Regions from separate parts of the Homo sapiens genome. Here region 1 is linked to region 2. A link means that fine-mapping ties the variant in region 2 to the expression of a gene that starts in the linked region. Tissue or cell type: tibial nerve. Region 2 holds a variant in brackets; the other region holds the start of a gene. All regions are shown on one strand. Distances are from middle to middle.

Region 1 (8,102 bases), 37 kb before region 2:
GAGACCCGAGCCCCAGCCTTCACCAGCAGGAACAGAGATGCAACCCAGGGAGCCAACGAGCCATCTAAGTCAGCTCCAGGCCTGGAAAGTTGGCTCTCAGAGGGAGGCCCTGCCGATTCTTTTGCTCCCGTTCCAATCCTGTTTAGGCTACTGCTAATCATGGTTAGTGCCTGTGCTGGCTCAGGGCTTTGTTCTTCCAGACTTCTGTTTTCACCACTTGTCTTGTGGGCCTTGTCTCTGCAAACCCAGGGCTCCAGAATGTCAGGAAGACCAGAGCACAGAGGCCAGGGAGGCCAGGAGGCAGCCGAAACGGGAGCCGCGAGGAAACATCACATGGAAACATCGTCTGGCCACACAGCCCTCCAAAGAGGAAACCCAGGTGTTTCTATGCCCTTGCAAAAGGCCCTCTGCCAGTGCACCAAATGGGGCTACTCCTGGGTAACCACACTGCCAGAACCGGCAGACTGCTTGGATAGTTTTCTTCCATCCTTATTACCTGGAAACACACAGGATCTTAGAAACCCACACCAGCTTCAACAGTCACTGAGGGCTCTGAGCTGAGACCCAGGCCACAGAAACACACAGGGAAAGTGGCCCTGTGGACACTAGGCTTGGCTGTTCACGCATGGGGTAAAAGCTGAAAAGGGAGCTAGCTGGAACTACAGCTCATCAAGTGGGGTGGACCTGTCCCACCTGCCTCCATGGACTGGCCAGACCCCCTGTGCCCAGACGGCTATGCCTGGGCTTTCTTCACAGCTTCCACGTCCTCCATGGGAACACAGACAGGTCATCGTCTGGAGAGGATGCAGCCCAGAACTTTCCCATTGACTCACACACCCATTCAACATGAAGGGAATAATACAAATACCAGCTGCCGTTTACTGAGCACTTATTACATGCCAGGCCCTGTTCTAAGCCCTTTACAAGCATGGTCCTGTTCATCTTCACAAAACCCAGCCAGCTAGGAATAAGGTGCCGGTTTTGTGGAAGAGAAAAACAAGCAGCAGAGTGGCTCACCCAAGCTGGCACAGCAGAGTTAGGATTCAAACTCGAGCCTGCCTGATGGCAAGCCTCATGGCCCTCCTGTGGTGCCGCCTGCCTCCCACCAACATGATTCTGTGAGTGTCTCACTGCTGTCCCCTACCACCAGTGGATATGTTACTCTGCGTAGCCAAGCCAGGCATGTGGGTATCAAGAGGGTCCCTGGACAGAGATGGAGGAGAGAAAATGCCAACAAAGAACAGGGGAGTGTGCTCAGAAAGGGACAGAGACCACCAGGAGGCTGCTGGCTGCTGAGGGTCCGCAGCGCTGGTGGAGGCACAGGAGAGGGAGAATGTTCTGAGTACAGGGAGGAAACAGAAGGAGGCAGAGGCCAGGGATGTGTCCATAGACATGACATGGAGTTTGGTCCGGCCAGAAGGGTCCAGGAGCAGAGGCATGCTGGAGAGCAGAGGCATGCTGGAGAGCAGAGGTATGCTGGCGCCAGAGCGCACATGATGCAGGACAACGTGATGTCAAGGGAGGCAGGGAGGCAGGAGAAGGCAGAGACTGGGCCTCCGAGCAGTGTTGACTGCCCACTTGCCCACAGCTGGAGCCCCACCATGGGGTGCTCGCCTGGCACCACTTTTCTGCCCAACTGCTGGCATCTACCCTGGCGCAGGGTCTTCTGGAGAAAATGAGTCAGCAGTGTGCTCACTGGTGCCGCGCGCGCGTATGTGTGTGTGTGTGTGTGTGTGTGTGTGTTGTGGTGAGGGGGTGCGGGGCGGGGGAATCGCAAACAGCCAGCTTTTTCCAAGACATGGGGAAGAAAGGAGGGGGTGTCATCCCGCGGACTCCAGCTCAAAGGGGGCAGGGCCCAGCTACAGCCCTAACAGCCTCTGGGGAGTGTCCTGGTGTCCTGGGGGCAGGATGGAAAGAGAGGAGCGCCGTCCACAGGCCCCAACGGGCTGCTTGCATGCTGCTGGCTCCCACACACACCCACACGCTGCGCCGGCTCCAGCACAGGCTCACTCTCTCTTACAACTCCTACTCCACACGCTGGGAATCCCAGCCTCTGGGCCCCAGCTCCGCGCAGCCGCTCCTGGGAGAGTCCCTGCCCCTCTCCGGCCCTGTCTCCCGATCTGTACACTGAGGGGTTCCGCACAGTGATCGCCCAGGGCCCTTTCTGCTCTGACATGCTGGCTCTCACTTTTTCTCTCTTACACACGTGAAAGGGACAGGAACCGAGAAGCAGGAAACACAGACACACAGACCCAGGCCGACTAACACAAACACGCGGAGATTTCCAGAAACGCGGGGACGTGCAGAGCCACACAGACACGGAGACAGGAGCAGAACCCGAGACCTGGTGACCTAGAAACTTGCGGACAATTTCACAAGAACAGATAGAAACGGAGACGTACAGGCTTGGGACCTGCAGACACTGAGACACCGGAACACACCGAGACGGCCCCAAACGGAGACCCCCCTCCTCCCCCAAGCATCCAAAAAGCCCCCCTCCGCACCCCGCCGGCCGCTCCAGGCGCCACCACCCACCCCCACCCCCGACCCCCGGGCTGGCTCTGCCCCCGCCCCAACGGGATCGGGCAGCCGGGCCAGGCGCGGCAGGGCGGGCAGCGTTCGCCAACTCTCGCCCGGCCGGGGGCGCAGCCCCTATTAACCCTTGGCGTCCCGCCTCGCGGGGGCGCAGGAAGGGGCAGGAAGCTGACGTTCCGCTGGAAGCGACCGCATGGCGGGGAACCCCGGCCCTCCCCGAGATTGGAGCAGCAGGAAGCTAGGGAGGGGGCGTCCCCGAGTTCGTACTCACCCCCCGCGCGCCGCCGCCGCCGCCGCTGTGCCTCGGGCCCCCCGCGCCGATCCCGCTCCCATGGCAGGCCCCTACTTCATGCTCCCGAGCCCGGGGGGCAAGTGTGGGCGCGCCCCATGGGGCCGCCAGCCCCCCGCCCCGCCGCGCCAGGCCGGCTTAGAGCGCGCGGCCCCCGCGCCCCCAGCGCAGCCCCGCGCCCAGGGGCGCCCGAGCAGGCAGGCAGCGCGGCTGGGGCCCCGCGGGCGCCCGCGCCAGGCCCATGGTCCCAGGAGTCCGGGCGCCGCGCTCGCCCCTGCCTCGGTCCTTTTCTGCTTCCACCAAAAAGGAAGAAGAAGCAAGAAAAAGAGAGAGAGAGATGATCAAACTTTTGGAGGCGGGCTGCTGGCGGTCCCCGGAGGCAGAGCAAGGCCGGGTGAGGGCGCGCGGAGGGCGGTGGAAGCTGCCTCCCCGCCGGCCTGGGGGAGGAGAGGAAAAGGAAGGATTTGGGGGAAATGAAGGCGATTTAAAGTCTCGGCCCGCGGTGGCTCTCCACCTTCCCTCCTCCCCGCTCCCGGCCGCCCTCTGCTGCCCCCTGCTGCCCCCTGCCGGCCGGAGCCAAGGGTACAGCCTCAGCTGGCCCACTACAGCCCCGATGGGACACCCGCCCCCCTCCTCCTTGTATAGATGGGGAAACAGATTCACAGAGAGGAAGGGGCTGCCCAGGGCTTCACGGTGATTTGATCACCGTTCTGAGATTAGGAACTTCTGACTGGTGAGGCTGGGGGTCCTCCAATGGGGGGTTGGGGTAGGGGAGAAGGGCCAAATTCTACTCCTGGAAGAAACCCACAGTTTCAGGGACGGAGCTAGGACCAGAACTTGGTGTCCAGACGCCCACGACAACCAGTATCGTGATCCCCACCGCCCACCAAAAGTTTGCGCTCCCAGACTCGGAGCGCCCTGGAGAACATATAGGGTGGGCTTGTTAAGGGTTTGCCACCCTCTCTCTCCCTTCTGTCAGCAATTGGAATCTAACCGCACCCCACCACCACCACTAACCACGCACCTCCCCAGAATCGACAAAAACTCCCTCGGATCCCATCCGGGAGCTAAGAGCTGCACACCTTGGCCCCCGGGCAAATTCTCACACCCAAAACTCCAGTCCAGCCCTGGGACCACAGCTCCCTCCGCCTCTACCACCTCTTGCCACTCGTTCACGAGCAAAGTTACACTTATTCACCGGTGCACACACACACTCCCACACGTATCCACCCTTTCCCCAAACTCAGACACACGCTCACACACGGTCCCATTCTGGGACAGCCACGCACCCTTCCTAGGTTCACACGAAACGCATCCTCAGATATCTGGGCTCAGGCGCACGCTGATACTCTACACTCGCAGAAGCATGCACACGGATGCTTACACAGGCACAAATGCACGCTATCCTGGCCATATCGCCCCCACACATGTACACACCCCGGGTGGACACACGCGCGCACACCCTCACTTGCACACAGTTCTCCGAGAGTGCCCACCGCACATGTGCACACACGCATTCACTCCTCACGCGTGTACCCACCTCCCCATACGCGCACACCTTTAGGCGCGCGCACACACAGGCATATAACACTTCGCACCGCTCCAGGAGCCCCCAAGCACTTACTGGGTCCCTACGTGCGAGGCTGGCCGGTCGGTCCTTCCTCCGGCGCCTAACGGCATTTGTATTCATGGGTCCCCGCAGCCGTGGGCGCGGGGGCGGGGGGCGAGGTCCCCTTCCCTAAACGGGGCGCGGGCGCGCGGAGCGCAGCGGCACCGGGAGGGGCATGGGCGCGCGGGACTGCGCCGCCGACCCGGTCCGCCTGCGCTCGAACTTCGGCAGCTCTGCGTCCACGGGCTCCGGCGCGGGCTCCGAGAGCTGGGGGCGGCTCATAGGTGCTGGGGCGGCGGCGCCCGCCGGGCCTTTTGAAGTCTCCGCTGGGGGCGGGGAGGGGGCGCTGAAGGCGGCCTTTTAAACCCTGGCTGCACGCGGGCTCGGTCGAGCAAGGTGTCTGGTTTCAACAAACTTTAGGAAAAGTCCCAAGCCGAGAGAGGGGAGGTAGGGGGGTTGGGGGAGCTGCATAGCTGTGCGCTGCTTCCTGCAGAGGGCAGAGCACCCATGGCTGCCAGGAGGGAGGCCAGTCGCGGGACTGGGGAACTGGCAGGCTGCTGGCCGGCGCGTGGAACCACCCCCGCCACCCCCGCACCCCCAATGTTGAACCAGAGTTCTTAACTTCCATGTGCACGAACCCCAGGGAGTGCAGGAACACCCCCAAACTGTGCACAAATTGAGCATGTTTGTGCATTCTTCAGGGGAGAGGGGCCGTGGGCTTTCCTCCGGTTTTCAGAAGTCCACGGCCCCCTAAGGTTGAGAACTCCCTCTTCAATCATAACTGATGTTTTTTTAGTTGCATACTTGGTACCATGCAGACCCTGTCTTTATTTACATTTTAGATATTTTGTTCATTGTGGGGTTTTGCATTAATTTTGATACTTTTAAAAATATTTTAAAAGTAAAAAATTAAAATATTATTTTGATTACTTAGGGGTTTGGGGCACTGCTTTGGGCAATTTACCTCCGTTGCTGAGTTTTCTTGGCATCTCCTGGTATGCTGCATCTCTGCATGTGCCACACCCTAGTCCAGACCCTGACCCACACAGTGCTGGGGTTTAAGGGAGGCCTGCTTTTTTCTCTCCATTTACAGATGGGAAAGCTGACATAAACGGGTAGGTGGTAGAGGTGGGATTTGAACCCAGGTAACCTAACTCCAAACTTCTGCATCTTGTCATAAGGATCCAAATCTTAGGCTTTAAGGGGTTCTGTGCAGATCCTCAGCAGCCTCCCCAGCTTCAGATCCGGCCTCCTGAGCTCCAGTCTCTCTGATACCTGCACCCAGGCTCAGGTAAGCTTGACTACTTCGATGCTTTCTCCATACTGTTTCCTCCCAGGTTCTCCCTCTGCCCCTTTTCTGCCTGTTCACAACCTGGTTATTCTTCTAGGTGCAGGCCAGAGCTCACCTGACTCTGGTGAGCTGCTCTGCCCTACACCGGGATTGCAGCACACATCACATGGCGCTGTCATTGTCAGATCCATCTCTGTGTCCCCACACCCAGCCTGACACATGGAGCCTGGGATACAATAGATGCTCAAACCGTTGGTAATTTAAATAAGTTATTTGTTTTAACTCCTACAGTATGCAAACCCCTGTACAAGACTCTGGGGGAAAAGGGTCTGCCACTGTGGGGGCAGGGACAAAAATTTCCATATGGTCCTGCCTTCTGGTCATGCACGCATTTGTAATGTGGACAGGAGACACGCACAGCAACTTGGGGTAGGGAAGAGAGTCTGGATGGGAGACATCAGACATCACTATGTCATGGAGAACCCCCTGCAACTGCATAAAGGTAAGATAATATAAGGAGAATGTGATAAATGCCACCAAAGAGATGCAGATCAATTGAATTGTGAAGCTGATTAAGGGATGGAAAGAAACCGAGGAAGGCCCCCAGGAGGAGGTGGCATTTGGATCTTAAAGGGTGTGTTGGATAAATGTGCAGCCACAGAGGAGAAGGACATCTCCGGTGAAAGAGTCACAAAAAGACCAAGAGGACAGAGTTGGATTTCAGGCAGGTTTTGAAGGAGGATTGAGGCGGTGGGGCCCAGTGAGAAACTGGGGAAACTGTCCAGTTCTCCCCACTGTATTGTGTGGGTGATACCACACGACTCACTGTCCACAAAGCCATTTCCAGGCAAGGGACTGCATTTCCTGAAAGGTCAGGCAGGCAGCAGGTCAGTGGCTAAGCACCAAGGCCTTTCCAAATTTCACTCACAAATGTGAATAGGCAAGGCTTAGTGCCAGGGAATGCTGCCTGCTTCACCCAGGTCAGCCCAAAAGACCCGTGAGAATGCTATGAGAACCCAAAAGGATTGAGGACATCCCCTCTCAGAGCCTCACTCTGCCCATCTGTAAAATAGGTGCATCAAACGTGATGATCTGTGTGGGCCCTTTGAGCTTGGAGGCATGAGACTGTCCTTCAACAAGAAATCCAATTATGTATGTGAATATTGAGGGCTAACTGCATTTTGCTAGGTCGGGAGGGAAATGAGGCTCATGGCCTTCCAGGAGCTCATGGGCAGCTGAGAAGAGGAGGCAGGGACACTGGGGAGAATTCCAAGGAAGGGCCTTGTATCCTGCCTCTGCCGTCTCCCCACAAGCAGTCTTCCTGCCAGGCAGGTTCTTGGCGCAGAGCCAGTGACTGGGCATGAACTGTTCTGATGGACGTTGAATCTGGAAGACACCAAGCCATTACCCACCCTTCAAAGGGGACAGCACACTCACCAAACAGCCCTAAGGGGCCCATTTCTATGGGGCAGAAGGCAGTAAGCCTGGGAACCAGGTGGGCAGGGGCTGCCAGGCCTCTGTAGATGCCTCAGGATGAGAATTCCTGGCCTGGTGGGGACTTTCAGGGAACACATAGTTTGTTCCCTGCTCAAGCAGCTCAGCCATGGACCCATCGGTCTCTGTGGCACATCTGCCTTAGGAGAAGCTGTTGGTTGCAATAGCTTTAATGTTGGGCACACAGTAGATGCTCACAAAATATTTATGAATGAACCACTAGATGAAGTGTTTGTTTTGTTTTGTTTTGTTTTGTTTTTTGGTAGAGACAGGGTCTCACTTTGTTGCCCAGGCTGGTCTTGAACTCCTGGGCTCCAGCAATACTGCCACCTTGGCCTCCCAAAGTACTGGGATTACAGGCATGAGCCACTGCACCTGGCCCTAGAGGAAGTCTTAACCTGCAGGACAGAGGTTGCATACTGCCCCAAGTATCAATCCACGTCCGTTTACCCACCAAGCTGCTTCTGAAGACCCACTGTGCACCAGGCTGGGTTTTCTGCTCTAGAAGCGCTATGGTCTGAGGAAGGAGGCCAGCAAAGAGAAAGACAGATAAAAAATGCAGGTCAGGAAGTCCTGCCTCAAATCAAGCCTGTTTAAGTGGTACTGCAGGGCTTGGAGGAGAACCAGATTCCTCCCACTAGGAGAAGAGCTAGAGTCTGCCAGTCTTTCCAATACCCTGCACTGCTGTGGGCATACCAGGCTGGGTCTTTCTTTCATTTGGCGGCCCCACCCTGCGTGTAGCAAAGGATACGCACACAATACATGTCTAACCATGGAGTCATTCTTTCCCTGGTAGGGAGATGCTGTCACGCATCAGGCCCTGAGCTGGCCACTGGCAAATACAAGCTGTGGTCCCTGCTGGACGCGGCTGCCTTGTTTAGCTT
Region 2 (8,102 bases):
CTGACTGTCCTGCCATCCTGCCTCCCTCAGTCAGGGGCCAGCTGTGCCCTTGGCCCCAGTGGAATGTGTACCCTGGAGTTTTTTTGCCCCTGCTTTGGATTTAAGATCTTCCTTTCTCTGAAGCCACAGAGTCAACACATATTTTTACTAGGAGGCATAGTAGGCAGGGCACCCAGAGCCCAGAGCCCTGCCTTAAGAGGATTTATTATCTTTTTCAGGAGACGGGAGGGAGCACAGATGTGAAACCATAAAAATGATCAATGTGGCCAATGCTTACGTGGGACTTGGTGTGCACCAGGCACAGCTCTGATCTAAGGGATGTCCATGTATTAACTCATTTAATCCTCACAACAACCTATAAAGTATTGTCAACCTCATTTTGTAGATGAGGAAACTGAGGACACTTAAGATTGAGTAACTTCTTCTTGACCACACAGCTACGAAGTTGCAGAGTTGGGTCTCAGACTCCCAGGCAGCCTGGTTCTTGAGTCTACTCAACCAAAGAAGACACTCATATGGCAAGTGTTAATCCCTCTGTATCAGGCACCATCCTCAGTATTGGGGACCCAGTGGTGGAAAGAATAGACCAGGGCTCTGTCCTCAAGGGACTTGTCATCCTTCTTTCGCTCACTTATTCATCTACATAGCCACCCATCCACCATCCATCCATCCATCCATCCATTTACCCATCTATCCATCATCCATTCATTTATTTATCTGCCTATCCATCATTTAACCATCTATCCATCTATCTATCCACCCATCTATTCATCAACCTATCCATTATCCATCTACCATCCATCATCCATCCATCCATCAACCCATCCATCCATCATCTATCTATCCAGCCAGCCAGCCATCTACCCATCATCCATTCATCTATCCATTCACCCATCCATTCATCATCCATCTATCTATCCATCTACCCACCCATAATCTGACCAGCATCCACCCATCCACCCATCCATCAACCACCCATCTGTGTCGATTTTTATTCATTATGTATCTCCCATGCTTGGCATAGTGCCTGGACATAACAAGTCCTCAATCAATATTTGCTAAAGGAATGAAGGAATGAAGACAGACTTGGGCCCCGCCCCAGAGCACTGGGTTCTTGTCCCTTACCCTTTCCCAGTCACAGCACCATAAGGTAGTAAATGCTGCCATGACCACCTTATGGGATTCTTGGGAGGCTTTAACGGCAAGTAGGTGAATGCCTTACAAACTGTAAAGGGCTCTAGGGGCATAGTCAGCATCAGGCTACTGAGCTGGTGTGCAGGCACTGAGACCTGCAGAGCTGTGTCTCTCTCCAGTCTGGCTGGTGAGACCTGTCAGACACTTCCCCTCGACCTGCCAAGAGGCCCAGAAAGGAAAGGAAATTGACATTTAATGAGCATCCATGAAGTGCCAGGGACCTTCACATACTTTAACCCTCTCTTCTCTTTTCTTGTACAAATCAAAGAAATGGAAGCCCAGAGAGGTCCACGATTTGCTCAAGGTCACATAGCCAGAGAAGAGCAGAGCCCACATTCTAACCTCGGTCTGTGAGCCCCAAAGCCTGTGCTCATGGCCCTACCTATGCTACACCACTTCTTCTTAAAGGGGATGCTGTCAACTTTTCCCTAAGTCCCCACTGTTCAGGGTCACTCAGCAAGCTCTTGGTAGAGTCTTTTAAAACACGTTTCCATTTAGTTTTTGCATAGATTATTTCCTTTTTGTTTTATGGGACACCCCCCGACCCTCCCCACCCCCCCACCCCCACCCAGCCACCAACTTTTATTTGCAAAGAAAAGCCAGTGTAAATATTCCCTCCCACCCAGGTTAACCCTTGTCTGACAGAGGTGTATTCTGTGCAGCTCTCTGGGGGAAAGGATGAAAGGTCACCCGGGCTTGCCTGGGCTTCCTGCAGGGCCTGTTTGACAGACCCTCGTGATAGTTCACACACACATGTATCTCTGCCGCCTAATGCCATGGGTGGCAGAAACCCCTGATTCTCAATTTACCAGCTTCTTATGACCCTCAGCACAGACCAGCCTTCTAGGGTCCAAGTGTAAAGGAGACAGTCTTCCTGGAGTCTCTACCCTTGCACTGTGGGCTGGAACAGAAAAAGAAGTGCCCTCAGCCACTGTTCCTGGGCCACCCACCGAGGGCCTGGCATAGCACTGGGCACTTCACCAACATCCTCTCACTGAGTCTTCTGGAAAGGAGGGCTTGGTCTCAATGACCCCATTTTACAAATGGTGAAGCTGAGGCTCAGAGAGGCAAAGTCACCTGTCCAAGACCACACAGCTGGCCAGGGGAAAACTAAGCATAAGACACGGTCCTTGCTTATAAGTTGCTTTAAGTCCAGGGCTAAAAGTAAGACACTGTACATGTGAAATGACAAGACAGCCCCTCAGGCCAGGCACTATCTTCAGTGCCGGGAACAATGACCCAACAGGAAACTGGTTGAAGCAAGTCCCAGTTCTGCTACACACTTGCTGAGTGACCTTGAGCTGGTCACTTTCCTTCTCTGAGTCAAACATCTCAGTCTCTTATGCTCTTTCTTATGTAGCATCTGGTAAGAATGTATAAAGTAGGACCTCGTAAGGGCGTGGGAGAAGATGGCTGAGGTTTGTGGAATAGCACAGCATTATGGCTAAGAATTACTACAAAGCCCTCCTCCTACCATATAGAGATCCCCTCCACCAACATCCCAAGAGGCAAATCCCCAGGCAGGAGAGTTAAGGTAGACTGGGTTGGGGGGCTAAGCAGAGGATCTGCAAGCCCTGTGCCAGGCACCAAGGGGAGGAAGGAATGGCACGGGGCATTCCACACCGGTGGACAGGAATTCTCTCTAAGTCGGAACTCCAGCGGCTCCTCACCAGCCCCTCTTCCCAGGCAGCCTTCACCACAAGACCCAGCACCTCCAGTGTCCCCAGCCACAGCCCCCCACAGCACAGGCTCCTCCTGGAGTTGGCTCCAGCTCCAGCAGGCCAGCCATTGAAGGCTCCACCTCACCCCTTTAAATTCTATTTTTTCAAACCACATTCTTGAACTTGGCAGATAACGTGGCAGCCCGACAAGAGCCCTATTTACTCGGAGAGCCGTGAATGGGCCCTTTATAACAAGCTTCATTAATATTTCTACCTATTGGCCAGCTCTCCGTTTCCTCCCCCTATACAAACAGATTCTCCACACAGAAAGACTTTTCAAATGCTCTTGTTGACTTTCCCCAAACAGGGAGGGCAGCTGAGCCGGCAGGGGTGTGTGAGTGTGTGTAAGTGTGTGTGCAGGGGAGGGGGCGGCCGTGGGCTTGCGCCCGCCAAGCCTTATGCAGGAAGGAAAGAGGCCCACTATTCATGGGCAGGGACGGGCAGCTCGGGTGAGTCCAGGTATGCCATGCCTCACAAAGGCATACTCAGCCCAGCCTGCCCCACGAATTCCAGAGCCCTGGCCCGCGGAGGTAGGCCGTCCCTTCTCAGCTCCTGCTGCCTGACCAGTGACCCGAGGCAAGTCCCTGACTTGCTCTAGGCTTCACTGTCTTCTTTTGTCAGTTGAGTCTCTACCTTGCTACTCAAAGTGTGGTCCATGCACCAGTGGTATCACCATCCCCCGAGAGCTTAGGAGAAACATAGAACCTCTACCCAGATTTGTTGTCCCTGAATTTGCATCCTAGTAAGATCCCTGGGTGACTTGTGTGCACTATCGACTTCAAGAAGCATCTGATCCACTCCACATGCCTCCTCCATCACCCCCCTGCCACCACCACTCTAGGGCCCAAAGGCCACAGTGGACCTGACACATCATCGAGAAGGCGGCCACCAAGGCTCTTTTGCTCTCTAGTTCGACACCACAGCCCTGGCCCATGGTTGGGGCTCAGAAAATCAATGAATAAACAGAAAAGTGTAT[T/C]GTCCAAGTCCACAGCCTTGTGCTAACGACAGCAATTCTTCCTCTTCAGCATTTGAGAACATTGTGAAGAACTGCCCGTTCCATTGTTCTGAAGGTCGTAGAGTCTTGGAAGGGACTTTCTAATATTGCAGTGGATGGGGTGAGCTCCCTGTCTTTTGGAGATATGCAAGCAGAGGCGGGAGGACGTGTGATGGGAAGTTGGAGGAGACACCATGCCCCATGTATAAAGAACGTGCCTTTGGGGCAGAGAAAAAAAATCACTGCAGGGAAGATGGTGTCCTCACTGAGCACACCCACAGGTGAAATGGGGGCCTCTTTAGAGACGGACAGACCCGAGTTTCAATGTTGGTGATGCCTTCTTTAACAATGAGAACATGGACAAGGTGGACAAGAGCCTTCACTTCCCTTCCATCTATTCATTCAATAAATGTTGATTCTATGTGTCAAGCCCTCTGCTGGACCTTGGGGACCTGATAGTTCATAAAATAGATTCTTTATTCCTATGGGGAGAGAGACAAACAAAAATCAATAAAAAATAAATATGGGCAGGGCGCGATGGCTCACACCTGTAATCCCAGAACTTTGGGAGGCCGAGGAGAGGGGATCACAAGGTCAAGAGATCGAGACCATCCTGGCCAACATGGTGAAACCCCATCTCTACTAAAAATACAAAAATTAGCTGGGCGTGGTGGCACGTGTCTGTAATCCCAGCTACTCGGGAGGCTGAGGTAGGAGAATCACTTGATCCCGGGAAGCGGAGGTTTCAGTGAGCTGAGATCACGCCACTGCACTCCTGCCTGGTGACAGAGCAAGATGACTCCATCTCAATAAATAAATAAATAAATAAATAAATAAATAAATAAATAAGAATGCTGAGGAGAAAGTAGAGGAGGGTGACAGAGACAAGGTGTGTGCATGGGAGGTGGGGAAAATTATGAGTGAGGGGAGCTAGGGAAGATGCCACTGAAAGGTGACCTTTTACAGTCAGACCTGAAGACAAAGGAGCCAGTCACGTGAGAAGCCAAAGGAAAGGTACCCCCAGCATAGGGACAGCATGTGCAAAGGTCCTGAGTTAGGAAACACTGGGCGCTTTGAAAGGGAGGCAGCGTGGTGATCGCATTCCACACACAAGTGGGAGAGGAACCGTGGGAGGCGGGAATTTCCACCTTACAGAGCTGCAGAGGATGGATGGCACCCAATCGGTGCTCAGAGCAGGATGTGTTTGCTCTTCACTGACCCACAGGTCCTGATCAGAACTGCTGTCTGTTTCCATCTCCCGAGAACAGCAGGGGCAGTGCCTCAGCCTGGGGGCCACGGCCCAGGGCAGGGCCAAGGAGCTGCAGGGGCTGAATGAGCCGCCTGTGTGCATATTGGCTGCATACTCCTGCCTTTTTGGGGAGGGAGTGGCCTGCCCTCTCCTGGGACACCTGCCCAGCTTCAGCTGGCCTGGGTGGCTTGGACAGGAGTTCCTGACCCCCTGCCCAGTTCTCAGCAGCCAAAGGCCAGACCCTCTTGGGAGCACAGAGCCTGCCAGCCGGCTCACACCCTCCTCCCTCCTCCCTGGCCAGCCCTTAAGTACCAGGCTGGAAATAACCGGTTCTCTCCACCCCTTGGGGCCATGGGCTTGCCCACCCTAGGGGCTGAGGTGGCTGGACAGGGAGTGGCGGTGGGCTGTCCCAAGAGAGACTTCTTGGAGTCTTCGCTGGGAGGCTCCCACCCTTGGGTTAGTAGGGAGGAGTTGGTTCAATCCTGGATTTGCTGCTGCCTCTCCATGAGCCCTTCCAAAGCTGCCTTAGCATTCTGAATCTGGTTTTCCTTATCATTACAGTGGAACCGATCACCCCCTCTGAGGGCTGTTGTGAGAATTAAATAACAGATGTGTGAGCTTTGCAAACCGTGACGTACAATGCACACAGAAGACTTTGTGGTCGGGTCGGACAGTTCACTTTGTATTCGAGGTCATGAAAGGACTGAATTCTAGCATCTGGTCCCAACTTCACCTCTTAGCTAGACCACAGCGTTTCTGAAAATCTCAGTGTCCCCAACTGCAACATCAAGATCCTTGTTCCTACCTCAAAAGGTTATCATTAGAATCCAATTTATTCAAACAGTATGTGTTGAACACCTACTATGTACATTGCTCACAGCATTCTAGACATCTGTAGAGGTAGGCCCCCTTTCCTTCTTTGACTTCAAGTAATTCTTTCCAGAGGACTGAAGAGAAGACAAGGATATACTCTTGAAGGTAGACAAAGGACAAAGGAGAAAGGTTCTAGATCTCAGACTTGGTCCCTGTCGTTAGGTGGCTGGTTGAGGTCTTGGTTCAGTCTTTTACTGTCTCTATGAATTTGGGCAGGTTACTTAGCCTCTGCAAAGCTCAGTTTCCCCATCAATAAAGGAGGGAGGATATTGTGAACCAAAAATAAAATTCTAAGCCCCCTGCCCTCCAACCAGCTGGACTCCCTCCTCTGGGTCAAGGCACTCCAAAGTTCACCTGAAAGACTGGTTCAGGCCATAATGGGAAGCAGAGGTCAGACATGCCTCAGTAGCCCTCCTCCCTTTTGGGATTCAGGAAAAGCTGACCCCTATTTAACATCAACGCAGACCTGAAGTCTGATAAGGAACACTTACAATGTATTCTTTCTGAAGCCTGCTGCCTGGAGGCTTCATCTGCATGATAAAACTTTGGTCTTCACAACCTTTTATCATAACTCAGACATTCCTTTCTATTGATAATAACTCTTTTAACCAATTACCAATCAGAAATTTTTTTATTCTACCTATAAACCTGGGAGCCCCCACATGCACTCTGCTTCAAGTTGTCCCGCCTTTCTAGACTGAACCAATGTATATCTTAAATGTATTTGATTGATGTCTCATGTCTCCCTAAAATGTATAATACTAAGCTGCACTCAACCACCTTGGGCCCGTGTTCTCAGGGCCTCCTGAGTGAGGGCTGTGTCATGGGCCATGGTCACTCTTATTTGGCTCAGAATAAATCTCTTTTTAATAATAATTTTCAATTTCATAATAATTTTTAATAATAAAATAAACATTTTACAGAGTTTGACTCTTTTTGTCAATAATATTACACCACAGATGTCTGTTGCCATGGTTTAAATTGTATCAATTGACACAGGGTGCTTAGCTCAGTCTTTGGCCCATTGTGTGTGATTCATAACGTTTGCTGCTATTAGCAGTAGCTGCAAATAGTATGTAGTCATCATTACGGTAGTAGCAAAGTGGTAGTAGTATAAATAACAAGAGAAGCAATCCTGGTGGCAGTACTGCAGTAGAAATACTGGTGGTAATAGAGTAAGAAGTACTATGTTTTAGACCATTTTCATACTGCTATAAAGAGACTACCTGGGACTGGGTAATTTATAAACAAAAGAGGTTTAATTGACTCACAGTTCCTCATGTCTGGGGAGGACTCCGGATACTTATAATCATGTGGAAGGCGAAAGGGAAGCAAGCACCACCTTCACAAGATGGCAGGAGAGAGGGAGAGTGAGCAAAGGGGAAGTGCCACACTTTAAAACCATCAAATCTCATGAGAACTCACTCACTATCAGGAGAAGAGTGTGGGGGGAACTGCCCCTATTATCCAATCAGCTCCCACCAGGTCCCTCTCTTGACACATGGGGATTACAATTCAAGATGAGATTTGTCGGGGGATGCAGTAGAGGCAGTAGAAGCAATAGTAGTAGAAGTACTGGTTGTGGTGGTCATAGTAAGAAGTGCCAGCAGTAATAGTAGAAGCATTGGCAGGGTCGTAGTAAAGGACTAGAAGGACTACGAGAAGACAGTGGCAGCAATACTAGTAGAGGTCATAGTAGTAGTAGTACCAAAGTGGGCATATGTGCCAAGGGAGGGAGGCAAGACTAAGAGAATCCAGCACCCCTTTAATTCTGGGGAGAAAAGAGAGGGTCCAGTTTCTGAGAACTGGAAAAGAGAGGGGTCTAGGTAGATGGAGCTGGCAAGAAGAAATGAAGGGTACAAAGCCCTAGAAAGTGGTGCTAATCAATCCACCTAAGCCGGATAGGACTCGGTCTTGGGATTGATGAGAGTCTCATCTGGTGTTGGGGGAGGGGGTGGCTGTGTCTCCCCCCAGGGAGGCAGAGGCAGCATTTGCTCTCAGAAATCCCAGGTCCCTGGAGCAGGCAGGGCTTTTGATGCCTCTAGCCCACACTCCTCCTCATGTACCTATG

The links. PIP is the estimated chance that this variant, and not a neighbour inherited with it, causes the effect.
Region 1: COL27A1 starts here. The variant in region 2 is fine-mapped to the expression of COL27A1 in tibial nerve (GTEx, PIP above 0.99).

What each region holds. Positions count from the first base shown.
Region 1 is chr9:114,150,717-114,158,818 of GRCh38, reverse strand. It overlaps COL27A1 (collagen type XXVII alpha 1 chain), which reads right to left and starts at 3,282. Exons shown (of 61, transcript NM_032888.4): 1 at 2,807-3,282. The coding sequence starts at 2,868. LOC105376225 (a long non-coding RNA gene) reads left to right here and starts at 4,551. Exons shown (of 5, transcript XR_930256.3): 1 at 4,551-5,724; 2 at 5,822-5,979; 3 at 6,132-6,226. RefSeq lists silencers at 2,116-2,410, 3,298-3,417 and an enhancer at 4,954-5,475.
Region 2 is chr9:114,113,541-114,121,642 of GRCh38, reverse strand. No RefSeq gene overlaps it. Among named protein-coding and RNA genes, the nearest start is that of KIF12, 18 kb to the right of the region's middle. RefSeq lists enhancers at 1,680-1,974, 7,734-8,102. The variant T/C (reference allele first, on the strand shown) is at 3,892.